2 separate regions of the Homo sapiens genome follow, and region 1 is linked to region 2. A link means that fine-mapping ties the variant in region 2 to the expression of a gene that starts in the linked region. Tissue or cell type: lung. Region 2 holds a variant in brackets; the other region holds the start of a gene. All regions are shown on one strand. Distances are between the middles of the regions.

Region 1 (10,165 bases), 24 kb after region 2:
ATTTCTCTGAGGACACAGCCAGTGAGAGTGCAGGTGCTCTCTCTCACCGGGTTTCAGCCCAGGTCTGCGACTCCCAAGCTCTCTGTTGGCCTCTAAGGCACTGGGATCTTAGCTGGCCCCTGCCTCTCAGATGCTTTCACTGGCTTCCCTCTTCCTCAGGGCCTCACAGCACCCTTAGCTCAGCACCCGATGCCCCCTGCACACCCTCCTAATCTCCCTTTCACCTCCACCATCTTATAAGCTCCCCCTGCCCTTCCTGGTCATGCTCCCGGGTCTCCAAACTCCCTCTGCCAGAGACACCCCCATTTACTCCATGCTGGGGAGAGCCACTCAGTCCTCAGGGCACAGAGCACAGCCCGCTTTGTCAGGAAGCCCTCCAGGACCAGCTGCAGGTTTTCCCTCCTCCAGCCCTGCTCCAGCCCTGTCTAGAATTCCAGTTAACTGCAGACTCATCTTACTCCCTCTAGAGGCTGTGGGCCATCTGATTTCTTATCACTTGACCACTGGGACACGGGCGACAGGGTGTCCTTGCTCAGTCTTTACCTAAAGCCTGGTTTTACCGAATGGAACCACGAGTGGGTGGGAAGAGGAGTGGGAAGCTGGAACCCCGCCTCTGCCTTCCCATCTCTGGCTGCCAATGAACCTCATACTTCTGCCACTCCCTGGCTGTGTGACCTCGGGCAGCAAAGTATAATACCTTCTCTGGGCCCCTGCTTCTCAGCAAAATGGGGGTGGTACCAGCATGTGCATTTCTTAGGGTTATGACGTAAACTCTGGAAGGTACTAGTCTGGTGACCTGTATCCAGGCATGATTACATGATTCCTGACTGTGACCACTGGAGTGGTCAGGGCATGAATTTGGGGTCAGAGAGACCCAGATGGTGGCTGCACATTGGCTGTGTGGTCTGGGCAGGTCGCCCCTTCCCCAGGGTCTCCGTTTCCCCATCTCTGAAGTGGCACTAACTCTGCCCACAGGGATGCAAGCCCCCCATCACAGAGACCCCATCTTTTGTTTGATGCATGCAGTAGGTACTCAGATATTTCTCAACTAAGCAATCAGGGGTCCAGGTGGAAGGAATCCATCCCTCTTCCCAGCCTCCACCCTTTCCAGAATCTCCCTCCCTACACCCAGCCCGTGCAGACTAAAATAGTCATTAGGCAGATTTCAAAAGATGTCAGTAGCTTATAATTATAGTCGACATCCTTCTGAGATAAAAGTGATTACCTTGGATGCAAATCACTTAGCAACCAATCAGGGCGGCGGGCGGCGCCCGCGGAGGTGACCGGCCGGCACCGCAGCCCTCCTCCCGCGGCCCGCAACGCACAGGCAGAGAAAGCGCCCAATAGCTCTTGACACGCAAATGGGTTAACACAATAAAGCGGCTCCGGCCGCTGCTGGGAGAGAGCAGCAATTCCCGGCCCGCGGGAGGTAATAAAGCGGCCCTTTTGTGCGCGCCTCCTCGTTCTCACCCCCGCCCCGAGCCCAGAGGAATCGCCGCCTGATTGAATTACGGTTCATGAATATGAGCTGCTTCGCTGCCTTCCTCCGGTTTGTGAGGGATGGGAAGGCAGAGGGGGCTGGAGGGAGGTTGGGGAGGGACCCCCGGCCAAGTCCCAGCCCCCGCAGAAGCTCAGAAAAGAGCCACCGGTGCTCACCATGTGGGTGGGTGGGTGGGGGCCTCAGTGGACAGAGAAGCCCCTGGCAGAGATAGCTGGTAGAGTTCGGGCCTCTCCCTGCAAATGGGGTCTTCAACCTTTGGCTCCAAGGGACTGAGTCATTCAAGGCTCCGTTCTGAGGAGGAGGTAACAGTAGCCATGACAACATGCGTTTGAGTGCTTACTGTATACTGTGTGCTGTGCTAGGCCCTCCCTGAATCCTCACCAGACCCTGCACAGTGAGTGCTATGGTCCTTCTCACAGATGAGTAAACTGGGGCTCAGAGAGGCAAAGGTACTCACCCGAGGTCACACAGCCTGCAAGCGGCGGGCTGAGAGTACGATCCAGGCCCAACCCACGCCAGAGCCTGGCACCTAATCAGGAGCCACTGCCCATCACCAGGGCGCCTCAAGTTTCTCATCAAGGGGGTTCAGCAGTCCAGCCCAGTCCCAGTTTAGTCCAGAGCAGCCCTAAGGCTCAGAAGGGACAGGGGATGGACGAGCTTACAGGAATTAGATAAGTGAGAAGGATTAGTGGGGGTGGGGCCAACCTTAAGAGAGGAGACTGCCCCCAGAACCGAGGTGGCCACTTCCACGCTTACGGGAAGAGATGTCCAGGGTTACTGTCCTTGTCAAAGGAGATCAATGGATCCTCTGCCCTGCTTAAACCTTCCCTATCCACCTAAGGCTCCAGGACACAGCCACTCACGGCTGCCCCTTTCCCCATCAGGCACGAGGGCCCACACACATCACTGGCTGCTCCAGGGCCACTCCGGCCACCCAGAACAGTCTTCTCACTCCTGTCTGGCACATTCCTATTTGTCCTCTTCATGACTCATGTGCCACCTCTCCTCTAGGGCTTTTTGACCCTCAGGCTGGGTCAGGAACCTCATCTACTAGTTTGCCCTTGCTCCATCTACATCCCAAGAAGGTCCCTGGGGCGGCCAGGGGCAGCTTCACCGCCTCCCTCCAAGCAAGCCCAGAAGGGCAGGTGACAAGGAGCGAGTTTCAAGCTACACCTTCTTTCCCCTAGTGCTGGAGAAAGGAGTCCTGGGGGTGAGGGGACCAGACAGACCACAAGGCCGGGCGGAAGTTGTTAATCTACTCAACGCTGACCTGTAGGTCATAGGAAGAGAGGATTCAAATCTGCCTTTTGGTGTGGACAAAGCATCTTGGTGGGGCCAGACTCCCCCTCCATGGCTGATAGCCTCTGATGCCTGCAGGGACCCCTGTCCAATAAGTAGGAGTGTCCCCCAAACCCCATGGGAGGAGGTGGTAAGACACAAGGACTCTGGAGCCAGGAGGGCAATTCAGGACCGAACCTCTGCAGCTGCCTGGCTGATCACCTGTAGCCCATCACTTCCTCTGTTTAAGCCTCAGTTTCATTAGCTATAAAATGGGCCACAGCGTATGAGCCACTCCAAGGAGTAACTGAGATCATGTAAAACGCCTGGCATATAGGGAGATGCTGAGAAAGCTGGCACTCCCTCCTGCTCATCGTCTGGCACGCTGAGTGCCAAGCCCAGGGAGATGAGGGAAGGGAACAGAAGGAATTGCCCAATTCTGACAGCCTTTCCCTCTGCCTTGGCTGTGGAAGTGTAAATACTCGGCAGAGGGCCTCCAACTGCCTGTGTTTGTGAATCTCTGGCGCGCACTCCGAGTTTGTTTCTAAACTGGGAAGCTTCGAGAGGCAGCGCAAACAGCCCTTCTGCCCACCTCTCCCGGCTCTCCCCCAATCTGCTGTTGCTCCTCTGTCCTTGGAAGCTTGTGTGTTTAACGACACCATTTCAGCTGGAAATACCATCTCCCTGCCAAGCCCCCAAAAGCAGCTCCACCGATATTTATTGACCTGTTAATCTAGCTAGAGAGCTTGGTAGAAGAGCAGGGAAAATGCTCGCTGCATAGACTGGGGCCTGGCTTCTCCTAATGACCCGAACACACACTTTCTCTGCTCTTACCCCGCCCCACGCTGCTGAGGCAATGACAGTTTTCGAACCTTTTCCTAGAAATGTGATCACAGCAGTTTCACCAGCACCCGACACTGGCAATAATTGCTGGAAGGGACCTAGACGAATCCCAGAGCCAGCAGCAGGATGCTTGCTGGGGGTTCTCTGGGCCTTTGCAGGGAAGCGTGCCAGTACTGGGGTGTGTGTTGGTTGGGGGTGCCCTGACAGAGACACAGTTTATTCAGACCTTGGCACTGATGGGCCTCACTTGCCCGCCATTCACTTAAGCAGCCTCACAATATGCTCGTTGAAATCCTCTTAAACACCAGAAGGAGCAGGGGGCAATCAGGAGTTCCAGGTTGGCCAAGGCCCCTGACCTTGGGGTAGAACAGCATGGGGAGCCCCTGGACTAGGGGTGCAGCAGGCAGCAGCTCCTCTGCACCTTCCTTGGCTGGGGGAGGGGCACCCACATTTTCCCCAGCAGAAGTAGCCTATTGGAGGGCCGGAGGCCCACATCTCTCTGGGGACCCTGGGAACTTCAGCCTGCCAGCTGGGTACATGGTGGGGTTCAGGGAGGTCTCTTCTATAGCATCTCTTTTCAAAACAGAAAGTTGCTCTGTCTGGGAGGCCTGAGCCCCGAGGCACAGGCCAGGCTACATGGGCAAAGCTCTGAACACCTGTCCTTGCGGGGAGGAGCATCAACAGGGACAGCTGGCACTGCCTCCCTCCCCCACCTTATGGGGCGCTAAGGATTTAGGTCAGAGGACTGCAATGGTAGGGGTGGGGGGAGTCCGCCTTCACCCCTCCACTACCCAAAGGCATCCAGCCCCGCCCCTTGTTACCACGACCCCGCCCCCTCCGGCCTTGGGTCAAGGCAAGTGGTGTTGCCACGGCAACCCCAGTGACATCAGAGGCTAAGGTTTGACGTCATGTCGTGCCCCCACTGGGGAACCTACCGTCCCTGCGAGTTATTTGTGGGAACGTGGTTTGAACGAGGGCTCTAAGGTCTAGCCCCATGGGGCACAATTCTCAAACGTGGCCACCTGCGTTTCTGGAACCCCAAATCCCCCTCTGAGGTGATTTCCCTTGAAGATCTCAGAGGCTGCTCGGGAGACCCTCAACGTTTTCCCATCCTGGGTGCCCCCCACCCCCCAGCCCTTCCAAGACACTGGAGTTCCCGGGGAATTTTCGGATGACACAGCCAATACCTTTGTTAGCTTTACGGGTGGGGTGACCTTTCCTCTCTGGCAACCAACCCGCCCAGGGTCCCGCGGAATCCGAATGGGCCCCCCAACCTCCACTCCCATCGGCTGGCCCATCTGAACAAGTTGTGTTTGGAGGGAGGAAAGGGGCGGACAAGGGTTATCTCTGCTTCAGGACCCCCAACAGCCTAGGACCCCTTCTGTCCAATCCTGGCTGCCCGGACGCCAGGGGGTGCCCCCAGCTCCAGCGCAGAACCCCGCCCCGCACAACTCACCGGATCAGCCAGGCCGTCGAAGGGCACCAGGTCTCAGCTACCACGACGCTCCGCTCGACGGGTCGCAGCCATGCAGGAGTGGCAGAGGCTGCCTGACGAAGCCCTCCTTGGGGGTCGATGCCTCTCTCCGGGTGGGAAGGGGCGCTGTCGGTGAGGGCTATCCTGGCGCCGGCCTGCGCCGTCCGAAGTCGGGGGGGAGGGGAGGTCTCCGTTCAGCAGGGGTCACGCCCGCCCCGGACGGGGGCCGCGCGGGCGCTCAGGCGACGCATCTTCGCCGGGGCCCGTGATCGCCACGTCCGGCGGGCGGCGCTGCGCCTCCCCTCGGGGCCCCGCTCAAGGCTGCAGCTCGGCCCGCGCCGCTCCCAGGGCGCCCTCTCCGCCCGCGCTGGGAGCCCGGCGGCCGCGGCCCCTTTCGCCAGCCCCAGCTGCAGCCTGTCTTTGTTGCTTCCTCTCGCTCGCCCGCCCGCCCGCGGCTTGCAGCCCCCGGGTTCGCCCCGAGGTGGAGGGATTGTCTCCTTCGGGGGTTGCACGCACCCGCAGCGGCCCCGGCTCCTCGCCGGACATACACCGGCCCCTGCAGGTTGCAAAGAACAGCGGCGAGAATGCACCGGCCCCTCCTCCTCCTGCTCTGAGCCCCGGGTGTGGGGGGAGGGGAAGCCGGCGAACAGCGGCGGCGGCAGCGGCGGCGGCGGCGGCAGCGGGCGACGCAAGCTCGGATGCAGCCTCGGGGGCCTCGGCGCTGAGAAACAGCCGATCCCAGTGGCGCAGGACGGACACGAGGACGGCCCGGGGGACTGTGCACCGGGTGTGCGAGCTCGCAAGCCGCAGCAGGGGCCGCGCGCGCTGGGCTCTCACGCGCCCATGGCCCCGGGCGGCGCGCGGGGGCTCCCGGGGCCGCAGCCTCGCGCCGTCTGGCGCGCGCCGGCGCCTCGCCTGGTCTCAGGCCCGGGTGCCGCGCGCCGCGCCCCACAGGCGCCGGGCCCGGCTGTCCGCCTCCCCCGGCCGGCGCGCGCAGCCTCTCCGCGGAGCAGCCGGCCAGGCAGTCCTGCCCGCTGCTCCGCTCTGGCCCGACTGACAGGCGCGAGCGCCGGCAGCAGCCCCCGCGTCTCGTCCCCCGCCCGCCCCCCGCGGCCCAGCCCAATCAGCGGCGGCTGAGAGGCGGTTACCAGGGTGACGCGGCACCGCGTCCTGCGAGGGGCGGAGCCGGGGGCCGCCACGCGCGCTTTTCGCGGCAAAATTCAAAGGCCGGCAGGGCGGCTCTCCAACCTCCTCCCCCAAGCAGGGACGAGGCGGAACTTGCCTCGCGAGGACTGCAACTCCCGGCATGCTGCGCGCCGGCGCCGGGTGGAGGGGCCCCGACTGGGGGCGCAGGGCGTGCTGGTTTTTGTAGTCCCACTAGGGGTGGCAAAACCAGTGTCATTTACTGATCACATATTTGGGACAAGGCACTGTATAAGTGCATTATCGGCATTATTTCATTTAATCTTGGCAAAAACCAACCTCATGAGGAATTTGTTAAAAATAACAACTATAGCTAACACTTATGTAGCAAAGTATTTTATCTAATCCTCACAACACCGTGTGAGTGGGTATTACTATCACCCCCATTTTACAGATGAGAAAACTGATACGGTAGGTACTATTATTATACTTCCAACTTACAGAGGAAACTGAGGTAAGGAGATGTGAAGTGACATGGTCCTGGATGTTTTTGTCCTAAGGCTTATTTTTGGCAGCGATGTGTTTTTGGCATCACAGTTGTGATCTGTGGAGCGCTAACTATATAACCCAGCACAGCGCTGAGCAATTTGCAAGCTACACCTTCTAGACGTACCCCACGCCCACAGGAGACAGGCACTAGCCTACTCCCCCACTTAATAGATAGGGAAACTGAGGCATAGTTTCACATCAACCTGGGGTTCAAATATGAATCTATCAAACTATACTGTGCTTTCCCTTTTACTTTTAAAGAAGCTTCCTGGGTTCTCACAGCCCATGGGCGGCCCGTCTAGCAGTCTCATTTACAGATGGGGAAATTGAGTCCTGGGTGGGGCAGTTCCCTCAGTTGCTGTGTGTCCATCACACAGCACTGTAGGAAGCCAGCTTTCCGGGATAATAACAAAGATCCCCACAGAAATGCAGAGCAGCAGTCAGACCCCCCACCCCTCAGGCTATGCCCGTGTGATACCTGGAGTCCCACCGAAACTGGGTGGGATTGCAGCCCTGCCCTTGCTGGTTGTTGGTCTTGGCCATTTACCTTCACGGGTCTGCGCCTCAGTTTCTTGTCTGTGAAATGGGGGGCATCATAATTCCTACCTTACAGCGTAGATTTGAGGGCAAAATGAATTCTTGCATGTAAAGGACTCAAAACACACATTAAGTGCTCAATAAATGCCCTCTGTACTCACCCGGGCTGGAGGGCTTTGGAGACCCTGGGGAGCGTATCCAGCGGACGGGCTGATTATAGACGGGCCCTAGCCTACTTCCAGGAGCCAACCCACCCCGCCGGGAGAGGCGCCCGCGGCGGACCTCCAGGGCCGGCCCAAGTGGGTCACCCGCCGCCTTATCTAGGACAGGAGCTGGCCCTGTTTCAGGCCTCTAAGCGGCTGCTCGGCGCGCTGTTCCCAGCAGCTCCGCTCTATTTCTCCGCGGCCGCCCCCATCTCCTCCCCTTCCCTCCCCAGGCTGAAGGTGGGGGTGGGGATTTACCTGGAAATGTGTTATGCCTCCAGCTGCTTCCCGCTCGGGCCAGCAGCCAGGGCTGCGGGGACGTCAGGGAGGGCGGCCGGGGCGACTGGATGGGTGGACCCAGCGTGTGGACAGGTGGGGAGACCAGACTTCAGCTGAGGACAGGGCGAGGGACAGTAACAAGCAAACCCTGGGAAATGAGAGAGATCGCGAAGAGGAGAAGAAGGCAGCAGTTCGCACCACAGCCTGTCAAAAGTTTGGGATTTTTTTCATTGTAGGTCACCATGACTTCACACCTACTGTGTGTCAGGCATGGGCTCACTGCTATTTATCTCACATAACTCCTTTTACCCTCGCAGAAACCCTATAAGGTATATACGATCACTATGCACATCCTACAGCAGAGGAAGGCCACATGACTTACCCAAGGTCACACAAATGACAGAACCAAAGTCCAGAGCCCTGACGTTGATTTATTGCACCTTGTGGCAGCCACTGTCTGACCGTGTGCAACCTTGAGGGGAGTTTCTTCTCTTCTCTGGACCTCAGTTTCCCCTGCCATGAAATGGAGGGTAGGACCCAAACCCCAGCCCTACCAATCAGACTCTCCTTGGTGGGACAGCAGTTTCCAAAGCTCCTATGTGGTTCCTGATACAGCCAGGGCTGACAACCCCAGGTCGAGAAGATCTCAAAAGACCCCTCCATCTCTGAAGTTCTATGAGTCCACGATGTGCTCATGGTGGAATTTCCGACAGCAGCAGGCTCCAAGGCAGCTGTCCAGCAGGAGAGGTCAGAGCCTTCCAGATGCCTGTCGCTCCCCTCCAGGCAGGTGAATGCCCCGTAAGATGCTCTGCCCCACTCCCCACACTCCCAGTGCCCCCCTACCCCATATGCCCATCTCCCTGAGATCAGACCCTCGTGCCTTTGCTCTTGGTCGACTCCAATAACTGCATTATGTGATTGGAGACAGTGTCAAGATGGATTTGCCACGGTCCATAAAACCACCAGGCAGGCCAGCCCCGGAACACTGGCTCTGGCCAGGGGTCCGACAGGCCCTGAGGGGGCAGGGGGCAGAGGGCATCTCATCTCTCACTGTTCTTGTTTGCCTCCCACACACCAACCTTGCTGAAATACCTACAAATCCTTGCACGTGCCTCTCTCACCTCCAGGTCATTGCTTATGCTGTTCCTTCTACCTAGAATGCCCTCCCTCCAGGTAGCTAACTCTTGCTCCTCCTTCAGAGTTCAGCCAAAGTGCTGCCTCCTCCAGGAAGCCTTCCCTGACTACCCTGCTCCAGGCTGGAGCACTTCCCCCTTCACAGATGTGTCCAGTGTGTGTTATAATGGCCCACTTCTTTGTCAGGCTTCCCACTGGCCTGAGGGCTTTTCCAGGGCAAAGGCTGCATTCAGTTCATTTTATTCCCTAGCACAGGCCTGACATAGAGTCAGCACTCAATGAAGGTCTGTTGACTTAATCTCTGAATCACTGAATGAATGTGGCCCAAGTTTTTGTTTTGTTTTGTTTTCACGTAGAGGAGGAGAATTAAGAGAAGGGAGTAGAGTCAGGCTGACTGGGCTACTAGCCATATGACTCAGCCGCTCTGTGCCTCAGTTTCCCCCATCTTTGAAATGGGATTAATTGCCATTTCAATTAATCAAGGCATCACTCAAGGGGCCTGGAGGCTGGAACTTTTGTTCCCACCCTCCCACGTATGTAAGGCTAGTCTTGCTCTTCTCTGTTTTTTTGTTTTTTTGTTTTTTAGAGACAAAGTCTCACTCTGTCACCAGGCTGGAGTGCAGTGGCACCATCATAGTTCACTGCAACCTTGAACTCCTGGGCTCAAGTGATCCTCCCACTTTAGCTTCCTGAGTAGCTAGGACTACAAGGTGCATGCCCCCATGCCCAACTAATTTTTAAATTTGTTGAAGAGACGGGCTTTTGCTATTTTGCCCAGGATGGTCTCAAACTCCTGGGCTCAAGTGATCCTCCCACCTCGGCCTCCAAAAGTACTCGGATTACAGACGTGAGCCACCTGGTCCATCTTTGCCTTGCCCTTCTCTGGTCTCACGCACTGAAGCCTGAGCATTCCCCCTTTAAGTCTGCTAATTCCCTCATTCATTCAACATTTTCTAAGTACCTGCCCTGTGCTTGACACTGGGAATTCAGCAGTGACTCAGACCAAGACATAGGCCTCTTGGAACTCAGGTTTCATGGGGCACAGAGAAGGCAACTAACAGGTGTCATCCAGGGTACCAGTAGAGGGGACAGTCCGAAGCAGGCACCTGACTCAGCGGAGGGCCAGTGATGGTAAAAAGGCAAGTCAGCTACCCTGGGAAAAATGGGTAGGAGGTAGCCAAGGGCAGAGGTGAGGGAAGAGCGCCCCCGGAAGAGGGAACAACC
Region 2 (10,165 bases):
AGGCTGCTGGGAAGGAGGTCAAGCCAGAGTTGAGAGTCTTGCTCCACAGGAGCTGGCCAAAGGAGTGGGTGTCATTTTGGGGATGGAGACCAGGAAGGCAGCACAGCCGGGGCCAAGGCCTGGGGGCCTAAGAGAGCATAGAGACTTTCCGACAGGGCCATGGTAGGTGGACATCCTGGGGGGTGAATGGCGTTCTCTGCCCACGACCTGCCCTGCAAAGGCTGGGGAGGCGTCCTACTCACACTTGCGCAGCTCCAGGCTCTTGCTCGGGCAGGCCAGGTGTTGGCCCGGGGCGTTCTGGGTCCTCTGCAGACAGGCCAGCATGGCTGAGCTGGGGGTCCCCAGTGGGGTGCGCTCTGCGACTGGGTCCCTGCAGGAGGAAGATGGGGTGCTCTGTCACTTGGGGGCTGCTCCGTGTTCGCCTCCCACCATTCCCCCCGGGAGTCTCCCTGCAACCCCGAAGAACATCAGAGACTCTCAAAGCAGACACCCATTTCCCTTATTCGACCAATGAGGGGACCAAGGCCTGAGGCATCAAGAGGCCCATCTGTGGCCTCATGGGAAGGGACAGAATCCAGGGCTCTTGAGTGGGGGCTGGACTGATGGATCACACATGCCCCGGCCCTGCTCGGCATCTGGGTCATCTGCTCTGGGGCCTGCCCTGATGCCCCCAACTGGGTGAGATCCTCACTCCCTCCGTGCCCCGCAGCAGGCTGTGCTTCCGGCCGGTGGTGGCCCCCTGTAAGCAAGTCAGCCTGAAGACCCCACTTGGTCATCTTGGGCATCTACACAGAGGGGTGCTCGGGAAATGCCAGTGGGTACATGGGTGTCCCAGGTTACTGAAGTACTGGTCTGTCTCCCGCCCAGGGCATCCTCATAGCCCCCCTGGAGGGGAGATGTCAGGATGGCTTTCCTGAGAGAACAAGGGGCTCTTGAACCTTGATCCATGCTGCACCCTGAGCCCAGCCCCAATGGGCCATCAAGGCTGCCCTGACCCGAGATCCCTGTCGCTGCCTGAGCTCCTTACCCTGAATGGGAAGGGCAGAGATCTGTGCCCCGCAGGGCAGCAGCTCAGATGTGGCTGCACACAGGCCCGTGTGGTACCTTCCCCAACGGCCAGAGCCTGACATTCACACAGACACTTGCCTTCAGCTTCCCCAAACCCACTCTCCTGCAGAGAACGTTTCAGGAGGCCCAGGCACATTCCTGAGAGCCCAAAGCCCCTGACTGGCAGGGTCAGAGTGGGCCTGCCTGTGAGGCCCCAATGGGAGGGTGGCGGTGGGAGCTTACCTAGAGGTCCCTTCCTCCCTTCTTGCTAAGGAGAAGGCAGGTCTCAGGGTGAGCTCAACCCCGGACACCCCTGATGTCCATCTTCCCGGGCACCCTGTCCCCACCACTTCCTGACCTCCCACAGTCCTGAGCAGCCAAGCTGGATCACCTCAATCTTCATGTTGGTTTTAAAAAAGAAGAAGAAAGCAGAGGGGGTGTTGAAGGGGAAGAAAGGGAAGTTATTTAATACTAAACAGGTGTCTGGAGTCCTAAATTCTGCCGCTTTCTTCTAATAATGAAGTATTCATGAGGAAAAGCCTTTTTTCACTACTTTCTTAAGATACTAATTTCACAACAAGCTCCTTGTTACGGCGCAATTATTCCAATCTTGTATTTCCCGGAGACGGTTGCAGCCTCCCGTCTGTCCTGGCCTCTCGGTAAATGAAAGACAATCGCGTAACCACCTTTCATTATGCCCTATTTTACTTTCAGCAAAGGTACCCTGAAAGAAATGATTTCCTCTGAAAGGGACTTTTATTCAGTTTCAAAACCAATTTTCTCCTATTACTGTCTCAAGAAAAAAAAAAAAAGAGCGAGAGAGAGAGAGAGTGGAGGATGGAGGGGAGGGGAGGTGATTCTCACCGCCCCCTCCCCAATCGCCAGCCTTAACACAGAGACGCAATAAAAGCTGCAGTATCCACTTCCCGGCTTTGATTTCTGGTAATTTTAAAATAGGCCATTACAATCAGGCAGAAATTATACAGTTTAAAAAGGGAATGAAGTGGGGCTTATTGCAGGGATGAAAGTCCTTGACTGCAGGAAGGCAGTGCTGCTCCTCTCCTCGGGGACTTGGAATGTGAGCAGGTGGCGGGAGCAGGCCTGACTCGGGCCTGCCATCACCACAGCCTTGGACACCAGCCCTGGAGGACACGCCGTGCATGTGCACAGGGAGGGCTGGGTGTGCACACACACCCTGGTACACACTCACCTATGTACATATGTGTTTGCTGCATGGCATGTTCCTCTGCACTTACAGGCACCCTCTTACGCACAGTCGGATGGTCTATGGAGACTCACAATCATGTGCAATCTGGAAGGTAAGAGGCCTGTGGCAACCTCCCTCACCCTGCCCCAGCCTCTTTCTGTGGCCCCTGCTCCAGGGCAGAGTCCATCTCTAGCCGCTCTGACATAGGGGTTGGGGGAAAGGAGGGAGATCCGGAGAAAGCCAGTCCAAGACCTCTCCCTCCACAAATGGGAAACCCAAGCCACAGGGAGCAGTGGCCTGCCAGGCAGGGAGTGGCTGGGTGCACTTACCCCCTCACCACTGAGCTTGGCTGCACCCAGGCCAGTAAGGAGGGAGGTCAGAGGCTGGTGCCCTGTGGAAACCTGGGCTGGAAGGCTGGAACCTCCTTGCCTCCCAGCACACCCTGTGTGACCCCGGCTGGGTTAATGACCCTCTCTGGCCTGTAACAGTGGCTCCATGATCCCTGTGGGTACCTCCAGGTCACTTTCTTCCAGAGTCCTGGCCATGCCCGGCCCTATCTCCAGCCTTTTACTGGGGTCCAGAAGTCCAGCCCTTCTCTAGGTGCCCTAATGTCCCTTGGGCCATACATCCCACATGCTTTGCAGTTGAAAAAGGGTGGGCTGGGGGCTGCAATTGTTGGGGAAGGGGCAGGTCGCCTATTCTGGAGCCTCCTGGGACCCCATCAGCTCCCTTCCCAGCAGGGCTCTAGTTGTCAGCGTGCTCTTATGGTGGATGCCAGGCAGTTCTGGGAGCTGGGAGGGGTTTTCAGGGTGTGATGGTGTCCAAGTGTAGGCCTCAGCTTTGGCTCAGCTTTGCCAGGGCAGCTGCCTACATCCTCCCATTCCTTGCTTCTGGAGGGCTACAGGCAGCCTGAGAGATGCTCTTCACTTAAAGAGGAGGGACTTTTTTCTCTCTGCAACCCCAGTTCTCCCAACTCACTGCCCATTCTCCCAGGAACCCTGTGTCCTGCCACTGGGGGCACATGGCAGGGTGGTGGGGTGTCCTAGGAGGGAAGTGGGGAGGGGACCACCACCTCCAACTCCTGCATCATCCCCATCATCTGCAACCAAGACGGTCAAATCCCCCTCCTTGGCCTTAAAACCTCTCTGGCCCCGGCGTGGAGCCCAGCCCTCTTTGCCCACCACACCTCATCTCCCTCTTGGCTCCCCCTGGCCCTCCTTCCAGCCAGGCTGCCTCACACCTCCAGACCTCTGCCCCTGCTGGTTCTCCTGCCTACGGCACCGTGACCCTGATCCGTTCGAACTCAGATCTGTCTTCAGACCCTGGCTCACCCTTCCCTTCCTCTAGATATCCACCATCTCTGCTCTAATCACACCAAGGTGTAATTGCCAATTTTCACATCTCTCTCCCTCCGCTGGACTGTGTTTCTTAGGGGTAGGGACCGTGTCTTATTTGTCTGTCTCTCCCCAGTGCCTGGCAAGAGTAATCATTTACTAGATAGGTGTTGAATGAATGGCCGAATCAATGAATTGGTTATTGTCAGATAAAGTGATCTAGGCCCAGAGAAGCCAAGCGTCCCAAACAAGGTCACACAGCAAGGCAGGGACAGGACTGGGGCATGTGCCTAAAACACTCATGTTCTTTCTGTGACCCCATCTTGCCCCCTCCCTGCCTGGCATCATCCCATCTGCAGGAGGCCAGCCTCTCAGAGTCCCCGCCTGGACTCATTACCCCCCTGGCCAAGCACCATCCAGGGAGCA[C/T]TGTTCATTTTGAAACCCTATCTGCAAATCAGACTGTTTATAAGCTCAAGGTCTTTTGTGACTTTAATAAAAAAAGGGGGGGCAGGGAGGGGAAAAACGTCGCATGCCTCAATGATTAGAATGCTTGGCACCTTCCCTGACATGGGGGCTGATAAGACGCCTTATCTCGGAGACACCCGAGGAAAAGGTCCCCTCCACCAGATAACGCCCCCAGCTGTCGATGTGTCCTTTCATAGCTGAGGATTTAGATAAAGGAAATGTGACAGGGGAGGGGAAAGGAAGGAAGGAACTTTTCAGGTCCGAGGAGGAATTGAGTCTGTGATGCTCGCCTTAGCAGAACAATGAATGGGAGGAGGCTGTCTCTGTTTTTATGAAAAGAACAGGGATTTGGGGGCTTGGGCCCTGCTTGCCTTTTGTCATCTCGCCCTCGCCTGTCTGGCTGCAGGGGGCGTCAGGGAGCCCACGGGCCAGTGGGAGGGGAAGCTCTGAAAGAGCAACATGCAATTTGGGCTCTTAACGGTGGTGAGCATGTATTGACTGCCCTCTGTACCAAGCCCATGCGCCTCCTCCTCGTGGCCTCTGTGGCTCCATTTCACAGCTTAGGAAATGGCCACAAAGAGGGAAGGCCATCTGTGCAAGGTCACATAGCTTTTAGATAGCAGAGCCCAAGGATGCCAATGCCAGTCAGTCCCTCAGCCCCACACTGTACAGCAGCTCCATCGTGGTTGGGGGCCCGTCAGCCCTCAGCTCCCAGTCAACTGGGCAGGGAGGGATGGAAGCAAGGGTCTGCTTCTCCCCAGGGCCCAAATCCATTTTGATTCTACTGTGGGAGGGGCTGGGATCACAGAAGGAAGGGGTGAGAGGAGGGGAAGGGCTCCCAGAGGCCACTTATTCATCCCATAAACATTCAAGGAGCGCAAATCAGGAGGCCAGCATTGGGCAGAACAACACTGAGATGAGTAAAGCCCAGGCCTTGCTTCTTACCCACCCATTCATTCATTTAGGCAGCAAACACTTCCCAAGCATCTTTTGAGGGCCAGCCCTGTGCCATGTACTGGGAGGACGGAAATGACTCAAAGTGTCCTGCCAGAAAGGAACATCTAGCCAGAACTGACCTCCCAATAAAAATGAATGTTCCTGACCTCTCTCTGCCTCCAGCATTTTCCTGATGTGGCAGGCATCTGGAACTTTCCCTCGTGTCCACAGGTCAGCAGTCTGCCCCTTGCCAGGCTGGGTTGACCCCAAGGCAGAATAGGAGGAGGACACACCTGGCTTCACGGCAGGGCCCTGAGATTGTGACCCCGGGAAAGCCATGGGCTGCGCCTCTGAGCCCCCATCTCCTCCTCTACCTCCAATCCCTAGAGCTACCCACCTGGCTTCTGTGGCTCCATTCAAGGCCAAAGCCTAGCTGTGACCTGGAGGGGAAGGTCATGCCAGGCCCTTCCTGGTGTCCAACAGGACTAGTTCAGAGAAGAGAGCTGGCCCCAGAGGCCTCTGGGTTGTACCTGCCAGGCAGGGGCCAGGCACTGGGGTTCTCACTGGCTGGGTGACCTGGAGGAAGTCACAGCACCTCTCTGAGTCTGTTTCCCAAATGAACCTTTATGGGGAGTGGACCAGCTGATAGTATGAGGGCCATCTAACTTGGACATAAGAGGATGTGATCATTTGGTTTCCAAACTTAATCCAGCTGTGTACAAGGTGTGGGGCAGTCCCTGAACTGTGGGCACACAAAGGGGCTCTAGACGTAGCCATTGTCTTTGAGGGACTTAGAATCTCGAGCAGGGACAAGATAGGAAGCTGGCAAAACCCAGCAGTTCATCATGCAAGGAGTAGAGTAGATGGTTCAGACTCTGAATTCCCTTTCAGGAAGTGAATGAGATGCTGGCCACTCCTCAGGGCCTCGCAGCCTTCCTGGGGGTGGTGGCAGGATAGGTGGGTGGTGAGGGAGCCCTCCCACAGTTCTCACCTCCATCCCTCTGGCTGTAATTCAAGTCTCTTCACGCTGCCTGGCCACACAGCCTGCTCCAAAGGCAGATAGGAGCCTGAAATGGTGGTGAGAGGCCCAGGGCCCGGGGAAGAGAATGAATGCTGGATTGGGAATACTAGGGTCAGACCCTGGTGGTGTGGCCCTAAATGGGTCACTTCTCTGTGTTGGTCCCCAGCACCACGAGCTGAGCAAGTAGAAAGCCTCAGAAAGTCCAGACCTCTCTAAATAATGAGGGGCAGCAAACCTGCTTCTGGCCAGGAAGAGTGGAGGGACCCTTGCCCAGCCCAGGAATGTCCTCAGGAATCTAGGTGCAAGCTTCCCCCAACCCCCTTAGGGGCTCCCACGACAGGAAGATCCACTGTCTGTCTCTTTCCTCTCCTCTGTCTACATCCCTGTCCTTAGCTCCACCTGCCTCCTGTCCTGATGCCTCCCTTCTCCTTCCTGCTGTCTCTCTCTCTTTCTCCCTTCCTGACCCCTCTTCCCTTGCTCCTTCCTCTCTCTCCCACCCCGCTTGTCTCAGCAAGGCAGCCAGAGTAGAAGCCCATCCCCACCTCCCTCCTGCCGCTCCCTCCCCCATCTCTGTTCTGAGCCGGAGGCCTTCCAAGGGACCCTGTTAATAATTAAATGTTAATCTAAAAAGCAATTTGAGCTGCGGCTAGGCAGATCTGGTTAGAGATTACATTAGCATGGAGGAGGCGAGGGTAATTTTCTTTAACCCCTCTCCTGATCTCTCAAGCCGGGGATTCTTCAAGTCACACCGGCACTGCTGATTAAACTGGCACAGGGCTTGGCTGTGGATAAGGGGCCTGTGAAAAGTGATTATTTCCCACTGCCATTTGGGCCTCAGCACCAGAAGGGGATTTTTACCTTTTTTTTTTTTTTTTAAGGTTGGGGGCTGGGGAGGTACTGTCCCCTTGAATAGGAGGCCTCATCTTCTGCCAGAATTACCACTGTATCTGTCCCCACCCCAGCAGGCCAGGGGCTCTCTAAAATGCTGCAAATCTTGTCACAGAGCATACCTGGCTCTTTGGTTTCTAGGACAAAGATGCCAGTCCCCTGCCTGGCTCCAACACCCCTCCATTGTGCCTGGTTCTGGGCTGGGCACTAGAGCCAGAGATGCTGGCAGTTCTGAGCCAAAGGGGAGACCAAAAAGTAAAGTGACAATCACCAATTCTGGCTGGCAGCCAGAGTCCTGAGGTGGGCTTCCCTCTGCACAAGACTCTCACCTGCACACTTGCAGGCTTTGGCCCATGCAATCCCAAGAGCCAGGAAGGACTTTTGAGCAGAAGGACTGCTCAAAAGCCCTTTCTGGCTCTCTACCCCTTAAAACTCAACTCGACCTTCAATTGGAGTCCGGGTTCCTGAGGGCTTCTCCAAGACATACAAGGTACATAATAAATGTTTGATGAATCGTCAAATGACTGGAGTCCCATGTGGCTCTCCTTGATCCTTCCTCTATGGGTTCACGGTGCTACAGCAGTGCCTGAGCACAGGGCCCTCAGGAAAACGTCTCCTGAACAAAGGATGGGCAAGAGGCTGTCCTAGGGAGTTGGGGCAGGGTGGGCCTCAGGAAGTGTCCTACTGGGACACACAGCTGGGGTCTGGGGGTAGGTGGCCATTCCTGGGCCTGTCAGCACCACGGCCAGCTCCCGGCGCAAGAGCCCTGGAGAAAGGGGCGGGGTACAGCCTGAGAGCATAGTGATGTCAGTCGCCATGGGAACTGACAACTGCGATGTGCCTCCGTCAGCACTCCAACCACTGGGGACGGCATGACAGATTAAACACCAACTATGTGCCAGGCCAGGCCCTGTGCTAGATGCTGGGGCAGTGACAGACCCTGAGTGGATGGGAGGCATCAGAGGGGTAATTACAAGGCAGGGAGACAAGCGGTGGCCATGTTGGGGTCACCCTACCTGGCCTGGGGGGGTCATGATGTAAGGACACACCAGCTGCCTCATTAGCAGAGCGACAGTGTCTGTCCCCGACTTCACATCCGGATGTCTGAGCTTTACACCCTAACTCTGTGAGCTTAGGCAAATCCCTCCCTCCTCTCTGAGCCTTAGTTTCTGCGTCTGCAAAAGGGGTTAATTCCTTACAACAAAGTGCCAGGGTCCTTGTGGTAGCTGCCTAAGTGGTACCCGTTGTTAGCATTGTTTATGGTCGCTATCAACAGGTAAGTAGGAAAAAGCTAGGGGAAGGGAAGGATCCCACAGAAGGGACTGCACAGGCCACCACATGGAGACTTGAGAGAGAGGAGCAAACAGAGAACATGAAGGAGCTCCAGGCTGCTGGAGAGCAAACCCTCCTGGTGAGTCACTGAGAGCACCTCACCTATGCAGGGCCAGGCAGGGACCCCCCCAACCTCAGAGCGGGGAGATCTGTTTCCTCTGCACTAGTGCTAGTTCAGGACAGGGACTCAGAGAAGGTGCCAGAAGGAGGGGCAGTCACTGCCACTGGCAACAGGCCTGGCTGGCCCTCTCCCAGAGCCATGGACCTCTGAAGGGCAGTTTCACTCTTCCCAGAGAGCCAGGGATCCCAAGGTGCAAAGTTTGGAGCCAGGGGCAGGCTGAGCCTCTGTTCTCCTAGTTCCAGCCTCGGCTCTTTAATGAAAATTGTCAGTCAAGTAAGACTCCGTCATCACCTTCCAGCAAAGAATGAGTGGGGAGATCTGAGAATCGATACTGAACAGCTTCAGTACTACGATGTCATAATGGGGCTGTGAGCTCAGCCGAAAGCCCCCCGCCCAGTTTTTTTTGGAAGTGGTCATAGAATCTCTCTGGAGAAACAACATGGAAATGGAGACCAAAAGAGGGAAGGAGGGATGCCACCAGATGACACTGGGATCCCGGAAGACGGAACACTGTGTGCAACGGGCAAAGGTAAGACCCACAGTGGAGATGGGAGGGGCCCGGTATCTCTAGCCTTCCTCCCACCTATTCCCCCAGTCCCTGCACCCACAGTTCAGGGTTAAAGCAGGCAACGGGGAAGGAGAAAAATCTAATAGTAAGAGCAATAAGAGCTAGCTTTTATTTTTAGTGTTCTCCACAGGCTCAGTACTTTACAGACGTCACCTCACGTAACCCACGCCACAACCGGGAGAAAGACATGATTGGCGTTGTACCCACGAGGAAACAGAGAGGGAAGGGAGCTGTCCAGGACCACGGGGTTGGTTGGTGGAGCAGGCAGGAAAGCCCCACGGAAGAGGTTGGCCTGGGCCAGACAGGGTTTGAGGATTCAGGCCCCAAGGGACGGGGAGGAAGAAGACTGGGTCCTTGTGCAAGAATGACCCAAGAGTGTTTAGAAGACGCAGTGGCCCAGGTCGGGGGAGGAGAGTGGACAAAAGTGGCTGGCAAGGGCTGGCCTTAGCTTTTAGCCCAATGCTAAGATCAGTAGATGCTTCTGGGGGTCAGGCTGGGGCAGAAATGAATGGAGCCTTCGAGGCAGGGGTTAGGAAACAGGACAGGACACTCGGCCCAAATGACAGCGCCACCACTCCACATCCCAGAGTTCATAAGCTCTCTCAATGTTTGTTTTATTTAAATCTCCAAGAGTCAAACGCCACTCACCACCCATGTGTGGGTCAGTCTCCAGCTTTCCACCTCTGCTGTGAGTGAGGGTAGAGGGGCGTCGTGTCTCTAACCCCTCCTATGGTCAGGGAGCTCCCTCCATGTCATCCGGCCACAGGCACTGTGATTTAGAAAGTGCTGGAGCCAGACCACCTGGGTTCAACCCCCTCCCCCTGTCATAGCCTAGCGGCTGACGGTTAACTGGGGAATTTTCCTTTTCTTCTTTGTGCTTCTCTGTATTTCTAATTTTTCCACAATGAACATGCATGACTTCTGGTTTTTCTTTCTTTCTTTTTTTTTTTTTTTAAAGAACTTTTCAAAAGGGATTTCAACCTCTGACCACCTGGAGACAGGCGACTGGCGCTCATTGTAAATGCACCGACATGACAGGGAACAGCTGCTGGGGAGGTGGAGACGGGTGCCGGGAGAGACAGGAAACCCCAGAGGCTTGGAAATCCAGGAGCCACAGGAAGCAGTGAGCTTTCTGCGGAGCCGGATCCGGTGGAGCCAATTCACCAGCAGGTCCCGGCAGCAACTCTTCTACAACAGATTCCTGCCCGTCCCTGTGCCCCATCGCCCCCCTGCCGTCAATCTCCAC

Evidence for each region. PIP is the estimated chance that this variant, and not a neighbour inherited with it, causes the effect.
Region 1: FAM222A starts here. The variant in region 2 is fine-mapped to the expression of FAM222A in lung (TOPMed, PIP above 0.99).

Annotation. Positions count from the first base shown.
Region 1 is chr12:109,709,811-109,719,975 of GRCh38, reverse strand. FAM222A (family with sequence similarity 222 member A) reads right to left here and starts at 6,151. Exons shown (of 3, transcript NM_032829.3): 1 at 5,079-6,151. RefSeq lists silencers at 6,011-6,060, 6,091-6,420 and an enhancer at 7,126-7,689.
Region 2 is chr12:109,734,306-109,744,470 of GRCh38, reverse strand. FAM222A (family with sequence similarity 222 member A) reads right to left here. Exons shown (of 3, transcript NM_032829.3): 2 at 243-370. The coding sequence starts at 324. FAM222A-AS1 (FAM222A antisense RNA 1) reads left to right here. Exons shown (of 3, transcript NR_026662.2): 2 at 8,650-8,880; 3 at 9,878-10,165. Among named protein-coding and RNA genes, the nearest start is that of FAM222A, 26 kb to the right of the region's middle. RefSeq lists enhancers at 4,110-4,609, 4,610-5,111, 6,548-6,692, 7,196-7,695, a cis regulatory region at 6,613-6,626 and a silencer at 7,600-7,800. The variant C/T (reference allele first, on the strand shown) is at 4,015.